2 linked regions of the Homo sapiens genome follow. The protein of the gene in region 1 purifies or fractionates together with the protein of each later gene. This does not show direct contact. Each region holds a gene or a part of one and is shown in the gene's direction. Other genes may lie near its edges. The genes, in order: CLEC16A and ACTR2.

The links.
Region 2: the proteins of CLEC16A (region 1) and ACTR2 purify together in Homo sapiens (affinity purification with mass spectrometry; 2 studies listed by BioGRID and IntAct, with this or other methods). This does not show direct contact.

Annotation. Positions count from the first base shown.
Region 1 is NC_000016.10:11,119,021-11,135,629, forward strand, and holds part of CLEC16A (protein CLEC16A), read left to right. Parts: intron 1-1,594; coding exon 1,595-1,746; intron 1,747-4,721; coding exon 4,722-4,926; intron 4,927-6,958; coding exon 6,959-7,126; coding exon of another isoform or gene 7,127-7,260; exon of another isoform or gene 7,261-7,324; intron 7,325-10,350; exon of another isoform or gene 10,351-10,478; intron 10,479-11,081; exon of another isoform or gene 11,082-11,196; intron 11,197-15,942; exon of another isoform or gene 15,943-16,030; intron 16,031-16,238; coding exon of another isoform or gene 16,239-16,348; intron 16,349-16,609. UniProt on the Homo sapiens protein: Regulator of mitophagy through the upstream regulation of the RNF41/NRDP1-PRKN pathway. Mitophagy is a selective form of autophagy necessary for mitochondrial quality control.
Region 2 is NC_000002.12:65,230,691-65,247,299, forward strand, and holds part of ACTR2 (actin-related protein 2), read left to right. Parts: intron 1-9,161; coding exon 9,162-9,272; intron 9,273-11,358; coding exon of another isoform or gene 11,359-11,373; intron 11,374-15,833; coding exon 15,834-16,049; intron 16,050-16,609. UniProt on the Homo sapiens protein: ATP-binding component of the Arp2/3 complex, a multiprotein complex that mediates actin polymerization upon stimulation by nucleation-promoting factor (NPF).

The DNA of each region.
Region 1 (16,609 bases):
AGACAAGGTCTTATTCTGTCACCCAGGCTGAAGTGCTGTGGTGCGATCTTGGCTCACTGCAACTTCGCCTCTCAGGTTCAAGCGATTCTCCACCTCAGCCTCCCGAGTAGCTGGGACTACAGGCACACACCACCACGCTCAGCTAATTTTTTTTATTTTTTGGTAGAGACAGTGTTTCACCATGTTGGCCAAGTTGGCCTTGTAAGTCGTGACGTCAAGTGATCTGCCCACCTCGGCCTCCCAGAGTGCTGGAATTACAGGCATGAGCCACAGCACCCAGCCTATATGTCTATTTTTATACCAGTACCATGCTGTGTTGGTTATTACAGCCTTGTAATTTGAAGTCAGGTAGTGTGATGCTTCCAGCTTTGCTCTTTTTTTGTTTGTTTTGAGACCAGGTCTCTGTCATCCAGGCTGGAGTGCAGTGGCATGATCATGGCTCATTGCAGCCTTGAACCACCCTGGGCTCAAGCCATCCTCCCACCTGAGCCTCCTGAGTGGCTGAGACTACAGGTGTGGGCCACCACACTCAACTAATTTTTTGCATTTTTTGTAGAGATGGGGTTTTGCCGTGTTGCCCAGGCTAGTCTCCAACTCCTGAGCTGAAGCGATCCTCCCTCCTCGGACTCCCAAAGTGCTGGAATTACAGGTGTGAGCCATCACACCTGGCCTAGCTTTGCTCTTTTTGCTCAGGTGTGCTCTGGCTCTTTGGGCTCTTTTTTGGTGCCATATGAATTTTAGGATTTTTTTTCTAATACTGTGAAAAATGATGTTGGTATTTTGATAGGAATTGCATTGAATGTGTAGCTCGCCTTGGGTAGCATGGTCACTTTAACGATATCATTTCTTCTGATCCATGAGCGTTGGATGTTTCTCCATTTGTTTGTGTCATCTTCAGTTTCTTTCTTGGATTGCTGATTGTTTTGTTGTTTTGTTTTGTGTTGTGTTGTTTTGTTTTGTTTTGTTTGAGACGGAGTTTTGCTCTTATTGCCCAGGTTGGAGTGCAGAGCGCGATCTTGGCTCACTGCAACCTCCACCTCCCAGATACAAGCAATTCTCCTGCCTCAGCCTCCCAAGTAGCTGGGATTACAGGTGCCCACCACCACACCCAGCTAATCTTTTGTAGTTTTAGTAGAGACAGGATTTCACCATGTTGGCCAGTCTGGTCTCGAACTCTTCACCCCAGGTGATCCACCTGCCTTGGCCTCCCAAAGTGCTGGGATTGCAGGCGTGAGCCACGGCACCCAGCCATGCTGGTTGTTTTTAAGCTACGGCTTGAGCACCTAACATGCAGTAAACATTGGACAGATGCTTTATGTACTTTATATGCTTTATATCAGTCCTAACTAGTAGCAGTTTGAGGGAGTGTGCATTCTCTTTATTATCCAGATGAGGGATCTGAGGTCCAGAGAGGAAAAGAAACTTTCCCGGCATAACTGTCAGAGAAGGGACTCAGACCTAGGTCTGTGTGACTCTAGGCCTGGGCTCTAACCACTGAGCTCTGCTCCTGATAGAATGAGAGTCAGCTTTGGTGTCTCCATCACCCTGGGCAGCCAGACTGTGCCTCATTCTCTTCTCACCTTCCTCCTCCCAGATAACAGCGACTTGATTGCATGTACAGTGATCACCAAGGATGGCGGCATGGTCCAGCGATTCCTGGCTGTGGATATTTACCAGATGAGTTTGGTGGAGCCTGATGTGTCCAGGCTTGGCTGGGGAGTGGTCAAGTTTGCAGGCCTATTGCAGGTAAGATGGCCAGGAGCTCTGGGATCTGTTCTCAGTTGGCTACAAACACACACACACACACACACACACACACCACACACAATTGTCATCTTTATCATTAATTTGTAGTGATATTATACAAGGTATATGTGAACAAATTGTCACCCAAAAAAAAGCTAAAATACCACATAAATGCACAGATAAGAGCAAAGTCCTCTTTGACCAAAACGCTCGATTCTTACACCTCCCCTCCACCAGAGATAATCTTCATTATCAGTGTGACCTTTCCAGATCTGTTTTTCTGCCAAAGGCATATATAAATGTAACTACATGTACTATTTTTAAAAATTATATACATATACTTGAGAGTGTATGTGTGTGTTTTTTATGATATCACATTGAATATGTTCTAAACTTTGCTTTTGTCATTCAATATCAATAGTGTGTCTTGGAGAGCCAGCCACATTAGTACACGCAGACTTCCTGGTATTCTTTTTCACTGCTTTGTGACTATAGCAAGGCATACTTAACCCATGCCGTGTCGGCTATTTCCAGTTTTCTGCTATTTCAGCAGACGGTGCTGCCATGAACAGAATCACTCTTACTTCTTTATGCACTTGGGCAAGGTTTCCCTAGGCAGATACCAAGAAGCTGGGGTGTACTAATTTTAAGTGTTAGTAGACACTGCCAAATACCACTCTAAAATGATTGTTGCCACTGGCATTTTTGTGAATTCCCTTCCGCTCAACGTCACCCCAGCAGAGCTAGGCTCTAACTTGCCAAGTACCAAGCTGGGGCTTGGGTTTTGGGGATTTTTTGGGTTTTTTTTTGTTTTTAATGTTTGCCAACGTGGGCCAGACGTGGTGGCTCGTGTCTGTAATCCCAGCACTTTGAGGGGCCAAGTCAGGTGGATCACTTGAGGTCAGGAGTTCGAGACCAGCCTGGCCAACATGGTGAAACCCCGTCTCTACTAAAAATACAAAAATTAGCCGGGCATGATAGCAGGCACCTGTAATCCCAGCTACCCAGGAGGCTGAGGCACGAGAATCGCTTGAACCCAGGAGGCAGAGGATGCAGTGAGCTGAGATCGTGCCACTGCACTCCAGCCTGGGCGGCAGAGTGAGACCCTGTCTCAAAAAAAAAAAAAAAAAAAAAAAAAAAAGTTTGTCAACGTGATAGATAACTAGTACCAGCTCTTTGAGTGAATAAAGCAAAGAATCAGAAGGGTTGAAAGCAGCCTCCCAGGTCGCCCCTCTGCCATACCCCTTGTCCCTGGATGTCCAGCTGACACTTCAGGCCTGAACTTTGCCCTACTTCAAGGCAGTCCATTTCTTTGCCAGCCAGCCCTGGTTTCTGGAAGGGCCTTGGCTCAGGCCGCCCCACCTCTGCCTTGCCGCAGCCTGACCTGCTGTCTGTGTCCTGCTCTCTGCGAGAACCACCCACATACTTGAAGCTACTGTTACAGCCTCTTCCCCAGCCTCCTCTTCTTCAGGATCTTTCTATTGTAAAAGTGTCTTTTACAAAGTGTGGTGTGAGAAACAACTATAGAAGAATCTTTCATTTAAAAGAAACACTCCATGTAAGACATTATCCATTAAGTGACTTATGCTTATCTATCTAGGCTTTATCTAGGCTTATGATTAATTTCCTTTAGAATTTAGTGTCAGGCAAGTGTTTTTCTCCCCTGAAGAATTAATATGTGTCTTCCATCAGACAATGAAAGCCACATAAACCTTTTTTTTTGGCCGTCTTCCAATGGGTGCTATTTGTCAGGTCTTTACTATACCAGACTCCCTGCTTTAAATGCAGAATGCCTCATCTGATCTTACTGCCGCGTTTTGATGGGGGTGTTATCTCCAAAGAGCCTGTGCCAAATGTAGTGCCTGAGAACCACAACCATCTTCCTCTGTGAGCCTTTTCCAATGTTGTCCCCACCTCCTTTAACATTTCTGACTTTTGTGTTCATTCCCTCTCAGGCTTTTATATCAGATCACCTCAAACCTTCATGGGAGTAGATTGTCTATGCAGAGTCCGTTCTGAGGTTTTAGACTGGTTTGTCTTTATTATATTTTGCTACATGTTCATTTATTCTCCACCTTTGAAACACAGTTTCCTTCAAATCTCTGCTCAATGACCTTCCCTATCCCTTTCTTTTTTTTTTTTTTTTTTTTTTTTTGAGATGGAGTCTCATTCTGTTGCCCGGGCTGGAGTGCAGTGGTTCGATCTCGGCTCACTGCAACCTCTGCCTTCCGGGTTCAAGCGATTCTCCTGCCTTAGCCTCCTGAGTAGCTGGAACTACAAGCGCACGCCACCATGCTTGGCTAATTTTTGTGTTTTTAGTACAGACTGGGTTTCACCCTCTTGGCCAGGCTGGTCTCGAACTCCTGACCTCGTGTTCCACCCACTTCGGCCTCCCAAAGTGCTGGAATTATAGGCGTGAGCCACCGTGCCCAGCCCCTGTCCCTTTCTCAGGATTAGCTTTTCCCTTTGGGGACCAGAAGTTTGTCAAAGACATACAAATGGTTGCCAACGATGTCCCCTTCTTAGAAGAAATAAGGAAGAAATTGATGAGTAGATGAGCAACTATATCTGAGATCATGCCAGATGGTAATAGTAATTTTGGTTCATTATCTCTGGCTTCTCAGAAGTAAGAGTTTGCCTGTGGTGTTACCTGTGGCCCCTTGAAGAGGCTTGTGGGGGTACGCTGTTATTCATGAGCTGACCCCAGTCCTCATGGAAAACAGGCACCAGCCACCACCACCAGCATCCGCTCCTTTGGGGTACTCTGTGCCTCCTCCCACACTGTCCTCTCCCACTGGGCCTGGTCTGCCTTGTGCCCATCCATGACTCTGTTGGACTTGGGAGGCTGTCGATCTTAGATCAAAAGCAGAGATGAATTTGGAGACCTCTTTCTAGATGCCTCATGATGCCACAGCTCCTAGCCACCCTCCTCCCAAACCCAACGAATGCCTTTTCCTTTGCTTCTCACTGTGCAGGACATGCAGGTGACTGGCGTGGAGGACGACAGCCGTGCCCTGAACATCACCATCCACAAGCCTGCGTCCAGCCCCCATTCCAAGCCCTTCCCCATCCTCCAGGCCACCTTCATCTTCTCAGACCACATCCGCTGCATCATCGCCAAGCAGCGCCTGGCCAAAGGCCGCATCCAGGCAAGGCGCATGAAGATGCAGAGAATAGCTGGTGAGTGGCTGGACCCTGGCAGGGCATCCTCTGAGCACTTGGTGGGTCAGGGCTGTTTGTAGTTCTCACACTGACCTTGAGAACCCCCATAGCATAGAAGAAGACACGTATGATTCAGGAATTGTTTTATATACGAATACGAGGAAGTTCCATTTCCTGGGTGTTTGGTTTCTGGTGAGTTTCTAGGGCTGCATGGAAGAGAAGAGGAGCTCTCCCTAGCAGGCAGGAGGCCAGCAATAAGTAGACGTCAGTGTGGGACCACTCTTCTCAGCCCTTCACACTGAAATTCTCAAGCATATGTTAACAAAGTGCTTTGACGTTACTCTACCACCTCCGATCCTTAAAACAACTCTGGAGTTCTGTAGGGCCTGCTCTGCCCATTTTACGGAGAAGGAAACAGGCTCAGGGACTTGCCCAAAGTCACACAGGCAGAACCCACAGGCAGAACTTCCTACTGTAAACTTACCCCTTCCTCCTTCCCCTTCCCAGTTCTTATAAGAGGCAGCCCTGCTTGGTGAAAGGCTGGAACCCTTGGAAGGAAGTCATTTTACATTTCACGGGGATTGCGGTGAATTTCTGAGGAAGCCCAACACTGCCCAGTATTAGGAAGGCCAGGATTTATTACAAGGAAAGTCACAGAAATGAGGGAGATGCGTTCATTGGGCAGGAAGGCAAGGCCTTCTCCTCGGCGTGGGGGGAAGGCATGCTGTCAACTCCTAAAATGACAGTCTTTCTCAAGATACCCAGTGCCATTCAGTTCAGGCACCAGTGCTCATCCTGGTGGCTGCTGAGAGGATTTTAAGCCTACCTGGGGATGTGGGGGTGCTTTCTCAAGGGATAACTTTAAAATAAGCCCTTGACCAGGCACGGTGGTTCATGTCTGTAATCTCAGCACTTCGGGAGGCCAAGGCGGGTAACTCACTTGCGCCCAGGAATTCGAGGCCAGCCTGGGAAACATGGCAAGACCCTGTCTCTACAAAGAAATTACAAAAATGAGCCAGGCGTGGTGGCATACGCCTGTAGTCCCAGCTATTCGGGAGGCTGAGGCGGGAGGATCACTTGAGCCTGGGAGGTGGAGGTTACAGTGAGCCATGATTGCACCACTGCACTCCATCTTAGGAGACGGGGTGAGACCCTGTCTCAAAATAAACCCTCAGAGGGCCAGTTTCTGGGCGTTACCGATGCGATGATTTACTGTGCTGATTTGCACAGGCCCGCGTCCCACGTTGTCGTCCCCGTCTCATTTCTCACTTAGCTGAAACTTGGCCTACAAAATCATTACTGAAGCATTCTGTAATGTGCAAAGTGACTTAAATCATTCAGCCCTTTCTTTTAAGATTTATTTTCAGAGAGTTTTTTTTTTTTCTTCATGTAAAGCAATTTCTCACAGCTGGCATGAAGGCCAAATACTTCATTTGAAAATTGAGAATTATGCTGTAAAGTGGCTGTTAGAACTAAAGCCTTGGGTATTTCTTAAATTGATTTTAAAAAGCCCCTCCGTATGGATATATTGGGAGGTTTATTTATGGAAGGGAGGTTAGTGGCTGAGACAGATAAACACCCACTCAGAGTTACACATGTACATGCACATCCATATTTTCGCATGCTCCTGCACATGTGCGGATATACATACACACGTATACGTGTGAACTCTCTGGGCAGACTCGGCCCCACTCGCTTGGGGTCTGAAACAGCCTTTGTCAGGGTCCTTTACACATGGAAGCTGAGAATCCAAAGTGGAAATTGACCCAGCTTCCATTCCACTCGAGGAGCCCAGGCTCAAACCCCTTTCTCCTTGGTCTCAACCTTGGCCCGAAGCCCTCACTTGGCTTCCGCTTGTGCGTTGAGCCTCAGTGGGAACTTTGATGTTCCACTGGTCTCTGCAGCTTGAGGCTGCCTGCCGCCCACTTGGCGTCTCCCAAGTGATGTGCCTGGCAGGGCCACAGCCACTACGATGTCCCCCCCCCCAAATTCTCACCACCCCCCTCTATCCCACATGCTCAGAGTGAACCATGCTATTGTTTGACCGTAGCCCTCCTGGACCTCCCAATCCAGCCCACCACTGAAGTCCTGGGGTTTGGACTCGGCTCCTCCACCTCCACTCAGCACCTGCCTTTCCGCTTCTACGACCAGGGGCGCCGGGGCAGCAGCGACCCCACAGTGCAGCGCTCCGTGTTTGCATCGGTGGACAAGGTGCCAGGTGAGCCAGCCCCCCGCCCTGCGCCACAGCTCGTTCATCATGGTGGGCGTTCAAGGTCTTTCTCTCTGTGGAGCCTGTGTGAGCTGCCCTTCCTCTCTCAGAAGCCCCGTCGGCTGGCAGCACCAGCTTCTTAGAATTTGTCAAAGCACAGCGCAAGATTAAACACAGCCCCCAAAATAAATTTTGGCTTTCCCTTTAGTGTTTGGTTTGGTTTTCCAGAGATTTGTTGGGTATGTGGAAGAACTTCTCAGAATTGACTAAGAATTTTCTTGGAAATTTCTTGGAAACATTTAAATGATTAGTGCTGAAGTTGTGGGAGAGTAATTTCCTTCTCCATGTAAGATGACTAGAAAGAGAGAGTGTGTTTGGTTCCGGTTACAACCCCCTGAAGAAGTGAGACTTCAAAAGAAGGCCGTGCTGCCCACAGGTCAGCTGTCCACTCCTTCCATATGAGGGCGTCTCCTCCCACTTTTGCCACAGCTCATCTCTAACCCTGCTCCTCCGCTCCTCCCAAAACAGAAACTTGAATGGAAAGTCCATTGCTGATTTGTCAGAGTGGAAAGGACCACTTCTCCAGAAGACCGAGTTCTCCCCTTCCTGTTCTGACATGTCTGCTTTAAGTAAATCCGTATGCACCCCGATCCCTCGAAAGAGAGCCTTTCTTTTGGTTGCAAAAGTTTAGAGCGCTGGCCAAGCTCTCCCTCACAACTTAACCCCTCCCCATATAGGGCTTCAAACTTAAGTTGCAAGTGTTGTGAAATGTTTTCAAAAGCAGTTATTGATTTAAGAACAAAACGCAGCCATAGGAACCTGCTCAAAACCCGAGTCCTGGTTCCCCCATGTGATTTATTTTAGTTTCATTGTTTGATAATTCATTATTTATATGTATATACCGTAGGCATATGATTTTTTAAAATCCAGACAGGAGATGATCAAATGAAAAATAAGTCTACTTTGCTTCAGAAGTAACTATTGTTAACAGTTTCTTGCCTGTCTTTCCAGAAATATTTCTTTGTATGTCATGCATATGTTTGTTTTTTACACATGGGGTATACCGTATGTCTGATGCTGCACCTTGCTACTTCTTCCTTAATAGAAAGTGTCACACATTAACACGTATAAATCAACCTAATTCTCCTTAACTGTTACATGGTATTTTGTCATATGGATGGGCAAAAAAATCTTTTTTGCTGTTTCGTATTTGGGTCATTTCCAGTGTTTTGCTCTTACAGTGTCACAGTGAGCATCCTTAGGGTGTCTTTGTGTAATTGTGCAAATTTCTCATGTCTGTGTGATAAATTCCTAGCAGTGAATTTGCCAAAGGGGAAGGTTTTTAATCTTGATATATGTAGTCCCAACGTGAACTCTAGAAAACAGTACACCAATTCACTCTGCCACCCACAGCTTGTGATTGGTTTCTTTCTTAAATCCAGTCTCAGGGCTGGGCATGGCGGCTCATGCCAGTAATCCTAGCACTTTGGGAGGCTAAGACAAGGCGGATTGCTTGAGCCCAGGAGTTTGAGACCAGCCTGGGCAACACAGTGAGACATCGTGTCTAGTATAAATAAAAAATTAGCCAGGCATGGTGGTGGGCACCTGTGGTCTCAGCTACACTCAGGAGGCTGAGGTGGGAGGGTCACTTGAGCCCAGGAGGTTGACGCTGCAGTGAGCTATGATTGTACCATTGCCCTCCAGCCTGGGCAACAGAGTGAGACCCTGTCTCAAAAAGAAAAGAAAAAAATAATCTTAGGCTGAGAGACTGATTGTGGCACCGCCTGTTTTCAGTGATGAAATGTGAGATGATTCTGCCTGTTTCAGGGTCAGGAGGATTCTTTGCTTAAAAAATTCTGCAGGTTGCTTCGTGTTCTGTGGCTATGATTGCTAAGTAAATATAAAGTGTGACTGAGTCTAAGTTAACTAAGTACAAATTGACCTGGTAAGAAATGACTTCTTTAGGGTCATTGAGGCGTCTTTCAGTTTCGGAACTTACTGGTTAAAGAGAAAAGCCCAGGCCTTATTTCTGTTCTGAGCCCTTTTGGAACAAGGTAGAATGTAAATAAATACATGGAGCCAAGCGGCCCATTCTTCAGCATCTACATGATCATTTCTCTGTTTGCAGAATGCTTTAGGATGACTTATTGCTTACCTCTTCTACCCTGCCTGGCCTTCCACCGGTGGGTGAGAACATCAAATGCCAGGAGTGTGGCCCGGCTCCAGAACCTGGGCCTGCCTGCCGGGGTGGTTGGCACAGCTGGGATGCCCCATGTCCTGTTGCTGGTCCCAGGGTCAGCAAGTGTGAGGCTGTGCCAACTGGGACAACAGCAAGTCAGAGGTGGCTGCTGAAGGCAGCATCCACCCCTTGGCTGTGTCTCCCCTGACTGCCCCTGGAAGTGCCACTCAGCTATGAGGAGTGAGATGGAGACATTCTTATTTATCACACCACCCCCGCAAAGAGGGAGGCCTCGCTGCCCTCCCACCTTGGCTTGGCACCAGAGCTGTGTCCTGAAGAGCAAGTTGAAATCCCTGAGCCTTGGCATGGTGGGAGCATAGGCTGCCCCCACCCCCATCTCAGTAGTCAGGGTCCCCCACAGCAGCAGCCACTCAGCACTTTGGAATCATTCTTAAAACTTTTCACCCTGCTTCCACACCCACCAGCCTGCTTGGCCTCCAGAAAATACTGAGATCCGAGATCTCCTCTCCCAGATCTCCCAAGATTGCAACAGAAGCCTTCTCAGGATCCCTAGCTTCCATTCAGCCAGTGGGATCATTCTAGTACTTAAATCAGATTACGTCATACCCCTGCCTCCAGCTTTTTGGTAGTTTCCTGTTGCACTTAGAACAAAATCCACATCTCTCCTTCTGATCTTGGGTGGTGGCTGTGAGATCCGGCCCCAACTGGCCTCTCAGATGAAGTTCCCCCAACCCCAAGCTCACTCTAGCCCCAACCCCAGCCTTGCCAGCCCCTGCTGCTCCTCTAAGCTAGCATTTCTCAGAGTTTTAGCCTCAGCACCCACGTGTTTATCTGCTTAAAAAGTATTACAGAACTTAAAGAGCTTTCATTTAGATAGATTATATTTATAGATATTTATGACATTAGAAATTAAAACTAAGAAATGCTTTCAATATATACTTCTTGAATAAACCCATTGCATATATGCATAACTAACATAGTTTTCTATGAACAATAACTCTGTTTTCCAAAACATAGAAAAAAATTGATCTTGCACATTTCTGCAAGTCTCTTTAATGCCTGGCTTAATAGAAGACATCTGGATTCTCCTCTTTGCTTCTGTTTTCTGTCTGTTGTGATAGCATGCATTCTGTGGCCTCTGGAAAACTCCTCAGTACACCCCTGGGAATATGAACATAAAAGAAAAATGTCTTACTATTTTTATGAAAACAAGGATTTCCAGACCACACTTTGAGACCCACTCCTGTAAATCACTGTGGCCTTCCCTGCCCCAGGGCCTTGCACTGGATGTCTGTACCCAGATGTTGGTGTAGCTGCCTCCCGCTAACGGCTCAGGCTTAGTTTGTGTGCCGCCTCTTCAGTGGCCTTTTCAGATCAGCTCCTGGCTAGGGTTGTCCCCTCCCGCCACTGCATTGGCCTGGTTCCTTTTTTTTTTTTTTTTTTGAGATGGAGTCTCTCTCTGTCGCCCAGGCTGGGGTGCAGTGGCACAGTCTTGGCTCACTGCAAGCTCCGCCTCCCGGGTTCACACCATTCTCCTGCCTCAGCCTCCCTAGTAGCTGGTACTACAGGCGCCCACCACCACGCCCGGTTAATTTTTTGTATTTTTAGTAGAGATGGGGTTTCACCGTGTTAGCCAGGATGGTCTCGATCTCCTGACATTGTGATCCGCCTGTCTCGGCCTCCCAAAGTGCTGGGATTACAGGCGTGAGCCACCGCACCCAGCCTAGCCTGGTTCCGTTTATCCACAGCACTGAGGTTCCTTACCTGGCTGATGCCTTTGTGTGCCTGGTCATAGTCTTTCTCCCCTGCAGAGAGGGTTGCCTGCGTGGGAACCTTCTGTGCTGTTTACCCTGCATCTCAGCGCCTAGCTCTGTGCCCCCACTTAGTATCGTTGAGTGAAGAATGAGCCTGCATTTGTTATCTGCTCAGCCTTGGAACAGAGCCCATCAAAGGCCTTCTCCCTTCTCTGAACACGGGAAGACAAGGAAAGTCCCTCTGGGGCCCTAGATACTTGGTGGTTTAGTCCATGGAACTTTGACAAGGGAACACAAAGGAACTGAGAACCGAGAAGACCTTAAGCAGCATCCCTCGGCTAAATTTCTGTCACCAAGCGAGCAAGATGTGTGTCCAAGGACCATGTACCCAGGTGACAGATTTAGGTTGGTTGCATATCAACTGAATTTCACCACCCTCCTCCTACTCAGAGTTTTACAGAAGCCACAGAGTAGTGACACGGGGAGCCGGGCAGTGGAGGGAGATTCGGTCATCAGAAACCTGGCCCAGGTTGGCCTCTGATACTGTGACATGTCACCATTGCCATCAAGGGCCCGTGGGTGCTGGGGCGTGACCACTTCCCACCCTCCACAATGGTGCCCCTCCCCATAGGCCGCACAGCGCATGGAGTCCTTGCTTCTGCCTAGATAATAATTCACAAGGAAGAAAACAACTCTGGCTGCTGCCTCGGGGTGGCTGCCAGACAAGGGTGTTTTATTAGGACACATCTTCCGATTTTATCTGCGGGCCCAGGTAATTGTCATAGAGCAGTTTGTCTCCCCTTTAGAAGCTATAAACGATTGTATTTGATGAAAATATGCCTTTCATTTCCTTGGATGAGATATTAAAGTAGTGTATAAATCAGGGCTAATAGGTGACTAGCCACTTTGGTGTATTTTTCTTCTTCCATTTGGCTCAGAAAAAAAAAATCACAAGTTCTATTTATTGGCTGGTTTTATGTTGATGGCTCTCACCCTCACAGAATGTTCAGCTTCACGAGGGATTGTGCGTGCGCCTGGCCAAGGAGGGGGGTCAGTGGCGGCCAGTATGTGGGGGTGGGCAGGCATGGCCAGGCCTAGACTCTAGCCTGAGCACTCTGTGGCTTTGAGTGCCATGTTGCTGTGGTTAGTGCCTCATGGACCTGGCCCATGGCAACAGCTGCTTCTAGAGATAGAATCTGTCATGATGGGCAGGGTGTCCAAAACTCGCCTGCAAGGCCACCCTTTCCATAAACTCCAAGTGGACCAGCAGACCCCAGAGCAGAAGCTGTTCCCCAGAAATGACCCAGGGGTGTCAGGGGCTACGGCCTCCCAGAACAGCCTTGCTCCTCACTCTGGGCTCCTACTGGCCCAGAGGCTGCTTCAGGAGGCCGCAGGGAACCAGAGCTGCTTACAGGTGTTACCCTGGTGGGTTGGTGGGTGTGGGAAGGGCTGGCAGAGCACACAGCTCAGAGGAGCAGCCAGGCAGGTTGACATCTCCTGGCCCTTGCAGATGAGGGCTTAGTGACATGACAAAAAAGTGACCTGTTCCCACCTGGTTTACCATCAACCGCTCCCCACCAGCCTGTTAACTCCGGGACAGGGACTTCTCTGCCTCTTCTGCTGCTCTCTCCTTAAAACCCACCAGCCCCTCCTGTCACCAGCCCCTCTCTGTGGCCCATGGTCCCATGCAGTCTGGCCCCTGCCCTCTTCTGGGATCAGCTCCCAGCCCTCTCTCCCCTCGGCTCTCTGCAGATGACACAATCCAGCCCTTCAGCCGCACTGGCTGGCTGGCTGTGCCTCACCAGGGCCAAGTGCGTCCCATTTCAGGGCCTCTGTTTTCGTGCTTCCCTCCGCCTGGAGCCCTCTGCATGGCTGGTTCCTTCTCAGCACTCAGGGCTCTGCTCCGATACCTCAAAAAGGGGCCTTCCCTGAGTGCCCAGGTCACCCTAGTTCTCTGCACGGCAGCTTGTTTTTAATTGAGGTGAAATTTAACACAACATAAAACTAACCACTTGAAAGTGAACAATTCAGTGGCATTTAGAACCTTCCCAAGATTGTGCCATCATCCTCTCCTCTAGTTCCAAAACATTTCCATCCCCTCAAAAGAAAACCCCATAGCCATTAAGTAGTCATCGCCCACCCACCCCCCCCGCCCCCGCCCCCATCCAGCCCCTGGCATCCACTAATCTGCTTTCTGTCTCTATAGATTTACGTAGTCTGGGTATTTCATATCAATCATACAATCCATGGCCTTTCATGCCTGGCTTCTTTCAGTTTGCATCATGTTTTCAAGGTGCATCTATCCTTCTTTTAGCTGAATAATATGCATTATATGGATAGACGTTGTTTTGCTTCCACCTTCATCCATCAATGCACATTTGGGCTGTGTCTGCCTTTTGGCTATTGTTGAATGGGTTGCTGCGAACATTCGTGCACAAGCTTTTGTTTGAACGCCTGTTTTGTTTTCAGTTATTTCTGGTATATACCTAGGAGTAAAAAGTAGGTCATGTGACAATCTAACTTTCTGAGGAATTGCCAGACCGTTTTCCCATGGTCTTCATAGTCCTTAGCTTTAGCTGAAATTGCCTCTTGTATTCCTTGTTCTCTGACACTATCCTGCACTAGAATGGAAGGCACTTGGCCAGGGGGTGGGTACAGGGTTGTGGGGAACCTCGTTTGTCTTGTCCTTGACAGTGCTCATGGATGCCTATGAAGTAGTTGCTCAGTGAATACCGATGTGTGGGCGGATGGATGCATTGGTGGATGGGAGGCTGGGGGACAGAGGATGGGGCTGGAGGAATTGTTCAGTCTTGTTTTCCCAACAGACTGTAAACCCCTAAGGCCAGGGTATTTCTGTCTTATTCAGGTCTGGTACCCTGTGCCAGTTGGTGGTGGTTTGGGTGTGAGCTGGCAAGTTGGACTTCATCCCTTAAGGGCTAAGCTGGACTTTATTCACTTCCTGTCCCAGCTTCCTACTGGGTTTGGGGCTCCAGCTGTCTTGTGGTAGATATTTAACTCCCCTGTATCACCTGAGGTCAGGAGTTCGAGACCAGCCTGGCCGACATGGCGAAACCTCGTCTCTACTAAAAGTACAAAAATTATCCCAGTGTGGTGGCGGGCACCTGTAGTCCCAGCTACTCGGGAGGCTGAGGCAGGAGAATCACTTGAACCCGGGAGGTGGAGGTTGCAGTGAGCTGAGATCTTGCCATTGCACTCTAGCCTGGGTGACAGAGTGAGACTCTGTCTCAAAAAAAAAAAAAAATTTTTTTTTTGACTCTCCTGAGTATCTGGGCCATGCCTTGCTTTTCACCGGTGTTATCTTTATCAAAGGCACCTAAACCGGCAGGGTCAGTCACGTGACCCAGAGCACTTAATAGTTCCGTGGAAAAGCCTCGCCGGTTCCAGAGGCAGCCCTTGGCAGCTGAGTAACTTAGGAAGAATGCAGAAATGACAGTGTGCTATGAGCCAGCTGAGCTGACCGCAAAGCCTCTGACCGCCATCCAAAAAGGCAAAAAGAAAATTGATGTTTCATTCATAGACATCAGTTCAGACCTCCCCTGAGAATAACGTCCTAGGTGCTAATGTCATCTCATGGTGGCATTTTCCAGGAACTAATTTTTTAGTCCTCTTATTTTTCTTGTTTCTGATTATAAAACTGGAGCCAGTTCTCTCCTTGTAGCTCCCCAAGGCAAAAAATACCCTTTCTGGAGTCACACAGGAAGAAGGACCTGGGGCTTCCTCCAGCTTCTCCAGCCCGGTCTTAACCCTTTCCCAGCCTTCAGCTCACTGCTTAGAGACTTGGGCCAGCAGGTTAGTGAGGCGGGTCCGTGAGTTATGGAAATTTGATTCCTACCCTCAGGCCTTTTATAAAGCAAAATTTATTGAGCTGCTAAGCACTTTATGCATTATTCTTGTTCGAGCTTCCCAATAGCCCTCAGAAGGAAGATGTTACCATTTTCCCTTTCAGCAGGTCAGAAAGTGGCCTACCCAAGGTCACACCAGATACCCTCCCTCCAGCGTCAGACCCTGAGTCCCACCACCATGCTGAACCAACTTTTAATTCATAGCTAATGTGAATTCCCCTTTTCTGATTTTTTTTTTTTTTTTTTTTTTGAAAGAAGGGCCTAACAGCAGCCACCTAAGGCCTCACTGGTACCAGGCAAAACTACGTTGTCGGCTCCAACTCTAAGCATATTTTAGACAGAAAAATTTGTATCTATTTCTGGAAGTGTGAGCTATAATTTGGAAGAATTAACCATGTTGGGCACTTTATATGCACAAATTCTATCCTCCCGACCACCCTGGAAGCTGGTATCACTTGCTCTGCCTCACAGATAGGAAACTGAGGCTCAAAGCAAGACTGCAGAGCTCACATGAGATAGGCTGAGATCTGTACCTCCCCTTCCTGCCTCTAAATCCCATTTGCTTCAAGGCTGGCATTGGTGCAGGTTGAATATTCCTTATCCAAGATGCTTGGGACCATGAGTGTTTTGAATTTTGGATTTGGGGGAATTTTGGAATATTTGCATTATACTTACTTACTGGTTTAGCTTCACTAATCTAAAAATCCGAAATCTGAAATGCTCCGATGTGTGTTTCCTTTGAGTGTCATGTCGACACTCAAAAAGTTTTGGATTTTGGATTTTCAGATTTGGATTGCTCAACCTGCAATGACTGAGCTACTTCGCATGGCAGCTCTGCCTGTCTCAGAATGTCAGAGATCAGTAGGATAGGCCCTCCTTAGAGAGGGGCCTCAAGGGATGCCCCTGGTCTAGACAGAATGTTCCCTACTCCCCTCTTCCGTCATCCACCCTGGCATAGGCCCACATCCTCGTGCCCCAAGACCCACTTCCAGTGTTTCAAGGACAAACCTGCAAAGCAGCAATCCAGAAAGATGCTCCGTCCTGAGACCACCACTTCCAAACCAGGCTAGCGGTGCAGGGCTCGTTCCTGCACAGGTTTGTCCCTGGTGTGCATGAACAAAAAGCAGAAGGATGACTTCAAAATCCTGCCTGAACAAAAGCAGCAGGATTTGAGCCCCTTTCAAAGCTTTCTGGCAATTGCCTCTAAGAGATCAGCCTTCAAGTGGTGGGGCAGGGGTGTGGGGAACAGATCCTACTCAAAAATCAGCCCTGAGCTGAGTCCAAGGGGTCTCCTGTTTGCCAAGCCTCTTTTCAGGGCTCCAGAGCAGCTGTGGAGAGAGAGAGCCTCAGGGAATCTGGAGCTGGGCTCACACAGCCAGAGAAGGAACCGCGTTCCCGGATCCGGGCCTGCAAGGTTTCCCCACTCACAACATGCCCCCCAAAGACACTTTCCCAATAGACACAGTAGCACTTGTCATGGGGAGCCCTCTCTCGCTAAATATGGACACAGTAGGCAGGGCCAGCCATCTTGCCCAGATGCTTTTCTGGGAGGTGGAGGGAGGGGAAGAAGAGAGTTCCAAAGAACTGAGTGTTGCTTCACTCTTTGGGGTCATTACCTAACTCATACTGCCAAAGCGACTGTATGCCCGGGAGCCTTCTGGTCATAAGAGTGTGT
Region 2 (16,609 bases), on another chromosome or scaffold:
TTGAGCCACTGCACCCTGCTGTCAGAAGCTAATGTTATGTTACTATTCCATTAGTTAGCTAACATTAGAAGGCTGATTTTAGGCTGGGCGTTGTGGCTCATGCCTGTAATCCCAGCACTTTGGGAGGCCGAGGTAGGAGGTTCACTTGAGGTCAGGAGTTTGAGACCAGCATGGCCATCATGGTGAAACCCCGTGTCTACTAAAAATACAAAAATTAGCCGGGTGTGGTTTCTGATGCCTGAAATCCCAGCTACTTGGGAGGCTGAGGCAGGAGAATTACTTGTACCTGGGAGGCAGAGGTTGCAGTGAGCCAAGATCACGCCACTGCACTCCAGCCTGGGCGACAGAGTGAGACTGTCACAAAAAAAAAAAAAAGCTGATTGTAGTATGTTATTGATTAGTCTTGTGTCTAATCCATGTTTTTAAGATTCTTTTCCTTAAGACAAGTGATCAATTCCTGTCATAAATGAAAAAAGTGAGTGTAATTAATTCAAATAAAATTTATCTGTTCTTATGCTTCTAGTTATTTTAAAATTTTATGCAGATTTTCTATGGACATGATTGGTTTCAAATGAAGAAACAGTGCTGTTAAAATACATGAATCATATAACAGGAATGCTGTAATAGTTCTGAGTATGTAGAGGACTAGGAACCGCTTAGATTGTGTATTCTGTTTCTTACCATTTGTAGACATGAATAATCATCTTGATTTTATTTAGATACCTGAAGTTATAATGATTCCTTTATAATTAAATATTAAAGAAGATATTCAGATGTAATTTTGCAAATTTATGGAAATAGTTGTTATCCTAAGGTGTTTTCATTTGCTCCTTACATGCCTTAGGTTTTAAAATTGTAGGCTGGCTGGGTGTGGTTCCTCATGCCTGTATTTCCAGCATTTTGGGAGGCCGAGGTGAGAGGATTTCTTGAGGCCAAGAGTTTGAGACTAGCCTGGGTTAGTATAACAAGACCCCATATCTAGTAAAAATAAAAATAAAATTACAGGCTTTTTAAAAAGTTACGATTCTTTTAACCTCTCTGGCAGACCCAAATTAAATATTCTAGGACAGGAGTGTCCAGTCTTTTGGCTTCCCTGGGCCACATTGGAAGAGGAATTGTCTTGGGCCACACATGAAATACACTAACAATAGCTGATGAACTAAAAAAATCACCAAAAAAATTTCATAATGTTTTAAGAAAGTTTGTGAATTTGTGTTGGGCCTCATGCAGCCCGTGGGCCATGGGTTGGACAAGTTTGCCTGGAAACAAGTTTGTACTTACGATCACATGACCAATGTTGGTCCCGCTTGATTTTCTATCTCCCAGCTTGACCAGTGTCTCAGTAGGGTTGCCCAGAGGAGGAAAACTCATTTGATCCAATAATTTATGTGGATTTTAACCATTCAAACCTCCTTCTGAAATCAAGCCACTTAAAGTGGCCCAGATAGGTGAAAATCTGGAGGTCTGTGAAACTCTAGGTTTAGGTCCTCTTCACGAGCTAGGCCCAGGCCCCTGGTGTTACGTGTCTTGTTACCAGACTAGGGTGATTTCATCAGCATTGAGTTAGATCACCAACAAAATGAAGGTTTCTCCAGTGCGTGCTATGTTGCTGGCACAGTGCTTAATAAGGTCCAGTCGTACAGAGAAGCTTATAGTGCTAGAATAATTGCATTTGCATTTATGTAATTGACATTTGTAGTTGATTGTGGCCTGCTTTATCGGGCTTATGCTACTTTATATGTTGAATTTAGGAGTGTTTGAAACAGAAACAAACCAAAACCAAATTTGGTTTCATCTTGCAAAATGCTTTGGTATAAGTAGAATAAATATTTTGGTGGCCTAAGATCAGAACAGTCACTGTGCAGTTAACTTACTAAAGAACATCAGTACCATGAGATAAAATTAGTAAGGGGAAAATAAATATTAAATAAGCCCAAATGGGGCTTTATAAATCCCAGGTTATTATTTTTTTGAAGAGAAAAAAAAAATGTACTTTTAGAGCAGATGTAGATAGAATTTTTCATTTTTGCTTGAAAGAACATTATACTGTTCATATTCTTACCATTTGATGACTCAGTGGGAAGTAAGGGAACTAGTTTAAACCACACTGCTGTGAAGAGGAAACTATATATGGTAAAATCTATTTCTTAAACACAGCCTTACTGCACACAATGAAAGAACGAAGTCACCAAGTCTTAAAATGATTGACATGGGGGAGGAATTTCAAGGATTAAGATGATACCAATGATACCAAATGATAGTTTAGAAAGGAATGTTTTCTTTGTATTTTATCACATCATGGTTTAGTTTTTTTTTTTTTTTTAGACAGAGTCTTGCTCCGTTGCCCAGGCCAGAGTGCAGTGGCATGATTTTGGCTTACTGCAGCCTCCATCTCCCGGGTTCAAGCAATTCTCCTGCCTCAGCCTCCCCAGTAGCTGGGATCACAGGTGTGCACCACCACGCCAGGCTAATTTTTGTATTTTTAGTAGAGATGTGGTTTCTCCATGTTCGTCAGGCTGGTCTCCAACTCCTGACGTCAGGTGATCTGCCTGCCTCAGCCTCCCAAAGTGCTGGGATTATAGGCGTGAGCACTGCGCCCAGTCTAGATTTTTTTTAATACTGATTATTATTATTATTTGCAGAAGTAATCAGATTGTCAGTTTTATATTATTGAAAAATTGGGGCCAGGCACAGTGGTTGATGCCTATAATCCCAGCACTTTGGGAGGTAAAGGTGGGAGGATTGCTTGAGGCTGGGAGTTCAAGACCATCCTGAGCAACAGCGAGACCCCTGTCTCCACAAAAAATAATATAATTTAAAAATTATAATTTTTATTTTTTCTTTACTGCTTCTTGCAGAGCAGGACTACCCCATAGGCAGTGTGCCCAGAGTAGCCAGTATAATTTTTTTTTTAATTATTTTATTTTATTATTGTTTTTGAGACAGAGTCTCACTCTGTCTCCCAGGCTGGAGTGTATTCATGTTATCTCGGCTCACTGCAACCTCCGCCTCCCAGGTTCAAGTGATTCTTCTGCCCCAGCCTCTCAAGTAGCTGGGATTACAGGCATGCACCACCACGCCCAGCCAATTTTGTACTTTTAGTAGAGATGGGGTTTCACCATATTGGCCAGGCTGGTTTCGAACTCCTGACCTCAAATGATCCTCCTGCCTTGGCCTCCTAAAGTGCTGGGATTACAGGTGTGAGCCCCCACACTCAGCCTTTTTTTTTCCTGACAGGGTCTCACTCTGTTGCCTAGGTGGGAGTGCAGTGGTACAATCATGGCTCAAGGCTCAACGTAGCCTCAACCTCCCTGGGCTCAGGTGATCCTCCCACCTCAGCCTCCCGAGTTTCTGGGGCTACAGGTGTGTGTCACCACGCCTGGCTAATTTTTGTATTTTTTGTAGAAATGGGGTTTTGCTCTGTAGCTTCAGGCTGGTCTCGAACTCCTGGGCCCAAGCAATCCACCCACTTTGGCTTCCTACAGTGCCAAGATTACAGGTGTGAGCCACCATTCCCAGCCAATTATTTTAGTTCTTGTTATTATAACTGTTAATGTTTTCACTTTTGAAGTAATGTGAAATAGTGCAATTTTTGCTATCTTGATGGATGAATATATACCCTGTATGAAAACTGGTGCTGAGTTCTATGGCAACATCTGCTTCCAATAAACTACTGCTCAAGCAGAATAGTTTTATTAATAAGTGATTGATAATCTTTAATTTGAATGAAAAGTCTTTTTTTTTGTTAGGCAGTAATAGTAGGTTTACAGTTGTTTTTATAGTTTCAGGGATTTCAGTTTTTGTCTTCTAACTTGGGAAATGTTTGTTGCTTAAAATATACTCATAAGAATGTTAAGATACGAACTACCCATCTGAACGATTATAATTGGAAGACTTTGAGTGATGTGATTATTTGCCACTTTGCCATGTTGTATGTCCAGTGTGTGTAGCTCTGAAGGAGAGGGGAGACGTGTCAACCTTAGCAGCCTCTTCCCTGCACTAGGATCAGACCTATGCTCCATCCCAGGCTCCTCCTGCCACCTCCAGCTTCTCTTACGATTTCTCACTTAGTAAACTTATTTATTTGCATTCAGCATGCCAAAAATGAACCTTACAAACTGGTAGGTTCTCTTTTCATTCATTCATTCATTCTATAATTTTTTTGAGATAATTTATACGCATATAAGTGAGCATTTTCATCCGGATAAATGGATACTTTTGACTATATCTGTTTATTACTTGGAGGTAGGCATAATAATTTAATATCAAAATAGTATTTAATTCCCATATTTGAGATATTTGTGTAAATTATGACTGACATTAGGCTGGCGATCATGACAGATGTTATACAGAAATGTGGGAACAATAGGGATAATGATGAGAACAGATTCTCTTCCATATCATTTAAGTTTGTATCAAGTAAACTGGATTTTGACTTAAAAGAGAGTTTGTGATTTGGGAGAGAAGAGTGTGTGAGAGGTGTGTGTGTGTGTGTGTGTGCACGTGGTGTGTGTGTTATGTTTTAGTTTGAAAATACTAAAAAATACTAGATGTTATTCTTTTCCTCTGAGGTAGTTTTTCCTCCATGTCTTAGGTCACATTATTTAAGAAGACACTGAGAAAAAATGAACTACTACTCCTGAATTCTGTTCATTTTAAGGGTGGGAAGTGTATTCCAGTTCATCACTATCAACCACTGCCAAGGGGAAATAGCTGTGAGCAAGTGGGTTATCTATTGCATATGCTATCATATCATGCTAACTTCTGCCTTAAAAAGTAATCCAGGCTGGGTGCCGTGGCTCACGCCTGTAATCCCAGCACTTTGAGAGGCTGAGGCGAGTGGATCACGAGGTCAGGAGATTGAGACCATCTTGACCAACTTGGTGAAACCCCTTCTCTACTAAAAATACAAAAATTAGCCAGGTGCAGTGGCGAGCGCCTGTAATCCCATCTACTCAGGAGGCTGAGGCAGGAGAATTGCTTGAACCCAGGAGGCAGAGGTTGCAATGAGCCGAGATCACGCCACTGCACTCCAGCCTGGATGACCGAGTGAGACTCAGTCTCAATAAAATAAAATAAAATAATCCAAAAGAATTGTATTATACTTTTAGAAATGGATAGCTGTACCTGAAAAATGCCCTTACCTTGGTGGCTCAATATAAACTAAGACTAGGTTTGTGGGCTTGTAAGAAGACATCTGAATAATATGTTTTATGTAGTTTCTATTAATAAAATGTAAACATGAGGTGAAAGGATAGGAATTGAGGTGGCATTGGGAGTGTGAACTTTCCTCATTTCAGACGAATTTTTCATAAAAGCTTTAATCTGATTGTCATGACTGTAACATATTTGAAAAAACTCTGTTTTTAAAAGACTAAGTGGGGCCGGGTGCGGTGGCTTATGCCTGTAAGCCCCAGGCTGGTGGATTACATGAGGTCAGGAGTTAGAGACCAGCCTGGCCAACATGGTGAAACCCCGTCTCTACTAAAAATACAAAAATTAGCTGGGCGTGGTGGCAGGCGCCTGTAGTCCCAGCTACTTGGGAGGCTGAGGCAGAATTGCTGGAACCTAGGAGGCAGAGGTTGCAGTGAGCTGCGATGACGTCACTGCACTCCAGCCTGGGTGACAGAGCGAGACTCCATCTCAAAAAAAAAAAAAAAGACAAGTGAAATTCTGGATGGCAGAATGTCCTAGGCTATTTATAATTAAATGTGGTTCATCAGCGTCATCTCCAACAGGGCTGCTGTAGAGATCTTTGAAAATACCAAATTTTTATGTTTTGGAGAGCTACATAAGATCTTGCTAAGTTTTACCGCATTAAACAAAAGAGTTTCTTGTAGATAGTAGCTTTCTTTTGTTGTTGGTTTTTTGTTTTTTTGGGTTTTGTTTTGTTTTGTTTTGTTTTTTTTGAGACAGGTCTCATTCTGTTGCCCAGGCTGGAGTGCAGTGGCGTGATCTCAGCTCACTGCAACCTCCGCCTCCCAGGTTCAAGTGATTCTCATACCTCAGCCTCCCAAGTAACTGGGATTACAGGCATGCACCACCATACCTGGCTAATTTTTGTTGGTTTTAGTAGAGATGGGTTTCCATCATGTTGGTCAGGCTGATCTCAAACTTCTGGCCTCATGTGATTCAAGTGGTGTGCATAGTAGCCTTCTATCAAGAGGTACATTGCTCTTTTCTGTCTACCTTTGTTTTATTACTGTCATGTATCACATTCAGGTACTATTTTTCATCCTTAATTCTAAGAATGTGTGGTGCCTGGAGCCATAGAAAAACAGACTTTTTCTGAATATTAAATATATTTTAAAACAATCATGGTATCATACTGTTAAGTCAACAGCAAAACTTTTAATATTTATTGATCATTTACTGTGTACCTATTATGTGCCAGACGCTGTTCTAGGCAGTTGGAATTCATCAGTAAACACAGTGTAGCTAACATTAAATAAATGCTTGTTAAAGAGGGTGCAGACTATGATTACATTTCCTTTCTTATATAGCTTCCTCCTCCCACCCTGAAATTTTTAATTGCCCTTTCCTTGCAATGTCTGCTCTTACTAGACTATGTATTATTTATTTTTTGTATGTTTTTTGAGACAGGGTCTCACATGATCACGGCAGCCTTAACCTCCCAGGCTCAAGTGATCCTCCCACCTCAGTCTCTGGAATAGCTGGGACTATAGCACATGCCACAATGCCTGGCCAATTTTTAAATTTTTTGTAATTTTTTCCGGGGGGGAATCTTGCCGTGTTGCCCATACTGGTCTCGAGCTTCTGGGCTCAAGTGATCTACCTGCCTAAGCCTCCCAAAGTGCTGGAATTACAGGTGTGAGCCACTGGGCCCAGCGTAAACAGACTATACAAGAATTTGTAACTGCCGGGCACAGTGGCTCATGTCTGTAATCCCAGCAACTCAGGAGGCTGAGACAGGAGGATCATTGGAGGCCAGGAGTTCCAGACCAGCCCGTGCAACATAGTGAGACCCCATCTCTACAAAAAATTTTAAAACTTACGCTAGGCGTGGTGGCTCACTCCTGTAATCCCAGCACTTTGGGAGGCCGAGGCAGGTGGACCACTTGAGGTCAGGAGTTTGAGGACAACATGGTGAAACCCCGTCTCTACTAAAAATAAAAAGAATTACCTGGGCGTGGTGAGGTACACCTGTAGTCCCAGCTACTCAGAAGGCTGAGGCACGAGAATCACTTGAACCCGTGGGCGGGGGCGGTGGAGGCCAAGCTTGCAATGATCTGAGATGGAGCCACTGCACTCCAGCCTGGGCGACAGAGTGAGACTCTGTCTCAAAAAATAATAATGAAAATAAAAACTTATTCGGGCCTGGTGGCACATACCTGTAGTCCCAGCTACTTGGGAGGCTGAGGTGGGAGCATCACTTGAGCCCAGCAGTTAGAGGCCACAGTGAGCTGCAGTTGTGCCACTGCACTCCAGCCTAGGCAACATACAAGACCCCAACTCTAAATTTTAAATATTTTTTAAATTAAAAAAGTATTAAAAGCTCTTGATTCTCTCAAGTTTTACTGTAGTTAAATCCTGTAGAATATCAGCTTCTTATGTATAAAATGGAAGTCTTATCACAATGATATGTTCTCGGAGCAGTACACAGAGAATGAAATTATGTTACCCGGTATTACTAAATATATTTATCTAAATGTAAAAATGTAAATAGGGCCAGGCGCGGTGGCTCACGCCTGTAATCCCAGCACTTTGGGAGGCTGAGGCGGGCAGATCACGAGGTCAGGAGATCGAGACCATCCTGGCTAACACAGTGAAACCCCGTCTCTACTAAAAATACAAAAAATTAGCTGGGTATGGTGGTGGGCGCCTGTAGTCTCAGCTACTCGGGATGCTGAGGCAGGAGAATGGCGTGAACCCGGGAGGTGGAGCTTGCGGTGAGCCGGGATGGCGCCACTGCACTCCACCCTGGGCGACAGAGCGAGACTGTCTAAAAAAAAAAAAAAAAAAAGTAAATAGCTAGCCAGGCGCGGTGACTCAACGCCTGCAATCCCAGCACTTTGGGAGGCCGAGGTGGGCAGAGCAGCTGAGGTCAGGAGTTCGAAACCAGCATGGCCAACATGGTGAAACCCTGTCTCTACTAAAAATGCAAAAATTAGCTGGGCATGGTGGTGGGTGCCTGTAATCCCAGCTACTTGGGAGGCTAAGGCAGGAGAATTGCTTGGACCTGGGAGGCAGAGGTTGCAGTGAGCTGAGATCACGCCACTGCACTCCAGCCTGGGCGACAAGAGTGAAACTCCGTCTCAAAGAAATAAATAGCCAAAAATGCCTAATAAATGTTTCTTTTCATAATACGGTGATATTAGTTTAAATGACACTTGGTTTTCCCATTTTGGAAAATGACATTCTCTAAGCGATTTGCCCAAAATGAATGAAAGTCTGCTTTAGAATTGAAGCTTTAGTTCTGTTCATTTTCTCACATTTCTCTTTCTAAAAATACTTAGCATTTTGCCGGGCATGGTGGCTCACGCCTGTAATCCCAGCACTTTGGGACGCTGAGGCAGGCGGATCACCTGAGGTCGGGAGTTTGAGACCAGCCTGACCAACATGGAGAAACCCCGTCTCTACTAAAAATACAAAATTAGCTGGGCTTAGTGGCGCATGCCTGTAATCCCAGCTACTTGGGAGGCTGAGGCAGGAGAATCACTTGAACCCAGGAGGCGGAGGTTGCAGTGAGCCGAGATTGTGCCATTGCACTTCTGCCTGGGCAAAAAGAGTGAAACTCCGTCTCAAAACAAAAACAAAAAAAACCTTAGCATTTGTTCAGCGAATTTGTCCATCCCACAGATACTTCTGGAGTGAGCACTGTGTGCCAGGAGCTCTGTTAGGTATTGGATTCCAGCACGAACTGCTCAGCTTAGCTCCCTGCTCTTATGAGGCTTTTGGTCTAGTGAGGGAACTTAGGCACTAATTTAGCAGTAAATAAACATGAACCCTGGAAGTAGGCAATGCCGTGAAAGAAGTTAAAAGGAGATGTTGCGATAGATTGAGTGGCTACTTCGGGTGGACTGAAAGCACCAAAAGTTTAAAATGTTATATAAATGCAAAGTGATATTTTTCAGATGCTGTCTTAAAATATAGTAAATATCCTGATGCTAACCCACTTTTATTTTACTGTTTCATTCCAGTTTGTGAAGTGTGGATATGCAGGCTCTAACTTTCCAGAACACATCTTCCCAGCTTTGGTTGGAAGACCTATTATCAGATCAACCACCAAAGTGGGAAACATTGAAATCAAGGTAATATTTTATTTATTGATAAATGATAATCAAGACATGTGAGGTGTTCTTATAAAAGTAGTTTAACAGTTCTTTTAAGTAGTTTTAAAATATGTTGCCATGAAAAGCAAAGGGGAGGGTAGAAGTTCTCATATTTTTAATTTATATCAACACCTGAACAGGGGCACAAAAATTGAAGTTAATTTCATCTGATTTTGTTTATGTATGGCTTGATGCCATTACTCTTTGGAGTAAAATACTTAAGTTTATTACATTAATGTGAAACGCTGTGTTAGTGACTTAAGTCCTATTACATAATATAATTTTTAAAAGAAATCGGCCTGGTATTTTTATGTCTTTCAATTCCATATATTTGTCATTGTATGTGAGTGTCTCTTTGGCACCTTAGACTTTTTCTTTTCATGTTTTTATGGCCTGATCCCTCTACTTTTTTATATAGCCATTTAGGAAAACACAGGGTGTAAATCTCATTGATTCCTCTTTTCATTAATATAACTTATTTCCATAATGTGCAGAAGGAAGCCATTCAAGCCTTTATTTGGCCTTGGATTATGTATCTTACCATAAAGAGGAAGGAAAGTTTTCATTGCCTACTCGCTGTATTTAAGATGAAAGACTACATGAAAAGACGATCGATTTTTCTCCCATATTAAAGGGATCAGAAATCAAGTAGGAGTTACAATATTTGACAAGAAAGAGAACAGTGAGAGGACAGTAGTCACCAGTTGGCTTTAAGTTCTTCAGGTGACTGAAGGATCAAGTTATACAGAATGCCATAGAATTTAGGGTCTTTTTTAGTGAATTATTTGTGAACACGCTAGCATTGTTTGTCCTATCTGGATAGTCTTTAGCAAGCCTTCAGTGTAAGGTTATGAGTCATTTGAAATATGCATTAGGGCGTATCTCTTTGGGACATTTGTTTTATGTAGGAAGGTGGTAATGGGTGGTAGAGATTTGCTATGTAGCCTTCTGCTTTTGGGATAGAGAGTTGAGTTACACAATGAATAAAAATACAAGCTGAAACTTGGGTTCTGTGTTAGTTTTTTTTTTTCAGAGTTAAAGTAGCGAATTTTTCTGGCCTCTCCTGTTAACAAAAAAAATAAAATGGGACACTCAGTGTAAGTTTTTCCTTTTTAAGGAGCTTTTGGAATATTTGTGGGATTCCTTACTTGCTTATTGTGAACTCCTTTCATTCTGAATGAATTCTATCTTAAATGAACTTTGACTGGAAATTAGCTAATAATAGTGATAAGGATAAACTGTTTAATGAAGTTGAAGGCTATACTTTTTATTCAGTGTCAGGTTTTTAAAGAATGGCTTTTTTATATACTGGACAATAAAATTTTTGAGGTATGAAGAAATATCATGTATAGCCATAAATTTATTTTGCAACATAGGCACAAATAACTACACATCTCTTCATGCCCACTTTCTTCGTGTTTAAGGCCAAGTGATAGAAATCAAATTTGTCAGTATGCTAATAAAACATTTTTGCCAAGGAATTCCCTAGCAGCATTTGCTTGTATGGTTTGTCATTCTGTATTCTATTGGCTCAATTCTGTTCACTCTGTGCAATCTTGTAAGCCTATCAAGTTAAATTATTCTTCGAGTAGAAAACAGCAAAAGATACCTGTGTCAAATAAATTTAACTTGAACACTAGAGCTTGGAAAAACAACCCTGAGCTATCTAACACTCTGCCTACTCAGCTAGACCTTTGCTGTTATCATTTATTTTTCTTAATTAAAGTTCTTAAGTTCAGTAATGAATTAAAGAAGCTTACTTTTTGGAATTCCTGTGCTTAGTATTTTGACTTATACTTTTTGTGTCTTGTTAGCTAAAATGTGGTAGACTGAAAAATGGAAATTTAAATCGTTTAATGAGTTAATTTGCATTCAGGAATAACTGTCCATGTTAATTTGGCCCTAATTATTAACTCCATTAAATATAGTAGTACTGCATCTGACCTCAACCTAATTGTCTCTATTGCTTGTATGTTTAAACATTTCAGTGAGGATTTTATTTAGGCCTTTTCTGACTCTTACTTCTACCTTCTCTCTCTTCACCTTTCTTGACCCGTTGAAGTAGAATAACAAAAAGATGGTAAGTGAGGTTACACACATGCTCTGTTTGTTTTCCACTTTTGCTTGATGGGACAGTAGTTGTTGTTTTGTGTCCCTTTAGTATTGGGGAGGGGGGGTTATTTCCATATTTTTATTTTAAGTACTTTGATTTTTAACCTTTTTCATTGCTTCAATTTGATAGCAACTAATTAAGTCCTATACTTTCCTGATTGCGTACAATGGACCAAACAAGAACTAATTACTAACATAGTTTTGAATTGTTTTCCTTGTTTTTCTTGTAGATGAATGTTATAATTAAAATGGAATGTGTTGTGCATAATATTAGAAACCAGATGGCTTTATATAGGATATGTGTGATCCAAAAAATTCAAGTGAAGTTGTTACATTTGAATAAATTCACTTTATTGACCAGTATTAAATTGAACATTGACTGTCATAGCCTGTATATATATTTGCATCTAGTGTGGTATCATATGTGTACTTAATAAACTGAGTAAAATTTTAATATGTAAATAAACCATAGATAGAAAAAGAGAATTCTTTCCATATCATCCTTACTGATGAGCAGATTTCACAACGTTATCTGAGGATAAATAAGAAAAAGGTAAAGCTTTTCTATAAACAACAGATTTCCCCCCCAAACATTGTACAGTGTGTTTTTCTTTATAACTATAAGCTTGCTGGTCTTATCTCAGACATTTAACTCTTCATTGTATTTTTCTGTGATAGTCTAAGTGCTTCTGTAGTAGATACTTTTCAAGTTTGTTTTTAATATTGTTTGTAAGAATCTCTGACAAAAATCAGGCACTTCTAATATATATTTTAACTAGTAATAGTAACTTTGTGAAGTTTTCTTTTGAATAAACAAAAACATTTAAAAGAGGAAATTTATCCTAAATAAAAGATCATAACATTTGTGTTTATATTCTAATGAGATTAAGAAAAGGGTGTGCTTGCTGGGCACGGTGGCTTGTGCCTGTACTCCCAGCACTTTGGGAGGCCCAGGCGGGTGGATCACGAGGTCACGAGTTCAAGACCAGCCTGACGAACATGGTGAAGCCCCATCTCTACTAAAAATAGAAAAATCAGCCAGGTGTGGTGGTGTGTGCCTGTAATTCCAGCTACTCAGGAAGCTGAGGCAGGAGAATCGCTTGAACCCGGGAGGCAGAGGTTGCAGTGAGCCGAGATCACGCCACTGCATTCCAGCCTGGGCAAGAGTGAGACTCCATCTCAAAAAAAAGAAAAGAAAAGGAAAGAGTGCGCTTGTAGAGAACAGTGTAGGCTTATTTTAACAGAAGTTTTTGACCGAGTGAGGTGTTTCATGCCTATAATTCCAGCACTTTGGCAGGACGAGGTGGGAGGATAGCTTGAGCCCAGGAGTTCAAGACCATCCTGGGCAACATGGCAAGACCCTGTCTCTATAGAAAGTTTTTTAAAAAGTAACCAGGCATAGTGATATGTGCCTCCCAAGCAACTTGGGAGGTTAAGGCAGGAGTATTGCTTGAGCCCAGAAGTTTGAGGCTGCAGTGGGTGATGACAGGGCCACTGCACTCCAGCTTGGGTGACAGAGCAAAACCCTGCCTCTATTAGTTAATTGAACAAACAAACAAATGTTTTCAGTGGAATTTTCTTCTAGGGATTTAATTGTGCTTTTGAACTTGAGTTTACTCTGTATTCTAATTTGAGGTGACATTGTTCAAAATGATTCTTGGCAAATGTAATCCCTACTACCCACTTTTCATGAAGTATAAATACCTTTGAAACAGCATCTCAGTTACTGTGATTTTTTTCATTGTTTCAGATAGGTGATGTTCAGTGGCGGGGCAGGTGGTTAAAACCTAAGGTCTGATCTGATCACTTATAACTTGGTTCTGAGTGATGAAGGCAAGTTATATAACACTTAGTAGGATTTTTTTATTAAAATTTTCGATATGAAAATTTTTTAATTGGATAGCTTGTATAGTCAAACTTTGTACTTCTTAAATAAGTTAATACTCCATTTTAAATGTCCTGTTTGTTCTGAGGAAGGTAAGGATACTCAATTCCAAACATTTCTTTCAGTTAATCCTTTATAGTATGTGTGGTCCTAGAAGTAGATACATGAGGCATTTATTTAGAGTTGGCATTGGGTCATGTAAATGTAAGCCCCTATTTGTACATTAAATAAAAAGTAAATTTCTGTTGAAATCAGATCAGACTTATTTCAAATTGGTTGAAATAATACTGATTATATTATCTAATTATCTAATCTGTTATCTTGTACAACACACAAAAAAGACGTAAAGTTAGTAACAAAAATGGTATATATAATTACAGGTATAGATTTCCCCCCTAACATTTTATTAAGCAGTATTAAGAAAATGTAGCAATATTGAAATGATTTTACAATGAAACTTGTATATCCATCACCTGGATTCTGACATTAATATATATCATACTGATTTATTACATATCTGTTCATCTGTTCATTCATCAGTGCATCTTGTTTTTTGATGGATTTCAAAGTAAGTTGCAGATACCAGTATACTTCTCCCTGAATACTTCAACATGTGCATGTTATTAACTAGAATTCACAAATACAGATTTTTAGTTTTGCATATTCCTCATAGAAGAATCTAAACGGTTGGGTGTGGTGATTCATGCCTATAATCCTAGCACTTTGGGAGGCTGAGGTGGGCGGATCCCTTGAGCCCAGGAGTTCAAGACCAGCCTGGGCAACATGGTGAAACCCTGTCTCTACTAAAAATACAAGAATTAGCTGGGCATGTAGCCTGTAGTCCCAGCTACTTGGGAGGCTAAGGTGGGAGGATCACCTGAGCCTGGGGAGGTTGAGGCTGTGGTAAGCAATAATGGCACCACTGCACTCCAGCTTGGGTGACAGAGTGAGACCCCATCTCAAAAAAAAAAAAAAAAAAGAGTGTAAACATTTAATATTTCAGATATTTGAGTAATAAGTTAGTAAGTTATGGTAAATGAACTTCATAAGAAATTGCAACAAATTTTTACTGAGCATTTCTAGCATCTGTTTTTAACTTTGTTATACTTTTTGATGCTTTTAGTGGATTTTCCAGAGATCTGTTTGGTTTTTTGTTAGAGTCCTCACCTTGGTTTCATCTCTGATATTTTCTTTTTCTTTTTTTTTTAATTTAAAACTCATATATTTTTAAGCCTTTGTTTTAAAACATCTCATGTTGGCCAGGTGTGGTGGCTCATGCCTGTAATCCCAACACTTTGGGAGGCCGAGATGGGTGAATTACTTGAGGTCAGGAGTTTGAGACCAGCTTGGCCAACATGGTGAAACCCCATCTCTACTAAAAATACAAAAATTAGCCAGGCGTGGTGGCAGGTGCCTGTAATCCCAGCTACTCAGGAGGCTGAGGCAGGAGAATCGCTTGAACCTGGGAGGCAGAGGTTGTAGTGAGCTGAGATCATGCCACTGCGCTCTAGCCTGGGCAGTAGAGCGAGACTCAGTCTCAAAAAAATAATCTCGTGTTAATTTTGCTGCTGCTTTTTTTTGTCTCTCCATAATTAAAACTTAACGTATTGTAGCAAATATCTACTTCTGATACTAGTTTTTTTAATTGAATTTATCAACATATGTAGAAATTAGTATTATTTAACCTCTTGACTAGCTGTTCTCTAAAAATAAGTCTAAATGCTAGGACATCCTTACTTATTATATATAGAAAATGTGACTTTCAAATGTGGGTCATCTTAAGTATGCTCTCATTGGAGACAAGACTTGTGAGTATTATGCTTCATGTGTGATGGTGTAGTTTTCCAGTATACTTTAAGATTGAAAATGTTGCTCAGGAGACAATTTTAAAGGATGGGTTATTTGCCTATATCTTAATTTTTTATAACTCTACAAATTCTCATTCACCTTGGTGAGGCATATGTAGAAACAGTTTAAATTCTTATTCAGGCATATGTAGATAGAAGTTTGTGCTATTTATTAGTTGGTGTATGTATGCATTATTATAGAGTAATAAAGAATCATTTTATTTTTTGCTTCTTTCATTATGCTTTATAGTACTTACATTTATCATTTTGATATTTAGTGCAAAGAAATGTGCTGCATGCATTGAGCATTTTTCTACAAGTTTTTTTCCCCCTGATGTGCTATTTCACATATCACAGGCCTTATTTTTTGAACAATTGAGCAAAAGAAACAGATGAAACCTCATACAAAACCCTCCAAAATATGAAAATGTGGGGTTTATTTGTGCTAATGCTCTTCTTTTGGAAACATTTGTGTTAAAGGTAAGGTCAATTTATTGATTTAAACCACATTGTATGTAAAAATGTATTATCCATGATTAAACTTTCTAAGACATTGTTCTTGATAGAAAAGATTTTCTAACTTGTGGAATAAAAAGATTTATTTTGCAAGTGTCAGAAATATTAAAATTAATTATTCCCAAGTTTTCTTAAATATTATGCAAAACTTTGATCTACAGCTTTGACATAATTTTCTAGGATCTTATGGTTGGTGATGAGGCAAGTGAATTACGATCAATGTTAGAAGTTAACTACCCTATGGAAAATGGCATAGTACGAAATTGGGATGACATGAAACACCTGTGGGACTACACATTTGGACCAGAGAAACTTAATATAGATACCAGAAATTGTAAAATCTTACTCACAGAACCTCCTATGAACCCAACCAAAAACAGAGAGAAGATTGTAGAGGTGAGTTTTTATGCAGGATATGCATATGTGTATTTCTGTGATATTATGTTAAATCAAAAATTTTCTTACTGTTGCTATGGATAAAGAGAATAAAAATAATTGTTTTCCTTCAGATCTTATTAAGTATCTACTATATGCTAGTCATTATTCTAAGTAGGAAAGTAGGATAGATCAGTAAACAAAAAATCCTACTGCCATGGAGTGTATATATTCTAACAGGGAAAAACAGACCAAAAAAATTAAGTTTTTAATTTAGTGAGTTAATTAAGTTAATTAAGTTTTTATGGAGGAGCCAGCAGAAGGAGACTGAAAAGGCTAATACAATAAGCAGTTACAGAGTTAATTAAATGGTTTGTTAGAAGGTGAGTGATCCAGTTGACCCATGAGCAATGCAGGGGTTAGGGGCACCAACCCTCCCTACTCACGTGCAAACTTAACTACCACCCAAAATACTTAACTTCTAATAGCCTACTGTTGACCAGAAGCCTTACTGATAACATAATATGTATTATATACTATATTCTTAACAATAAAGTAAGCTAGAGGAAATACTGTTAAGA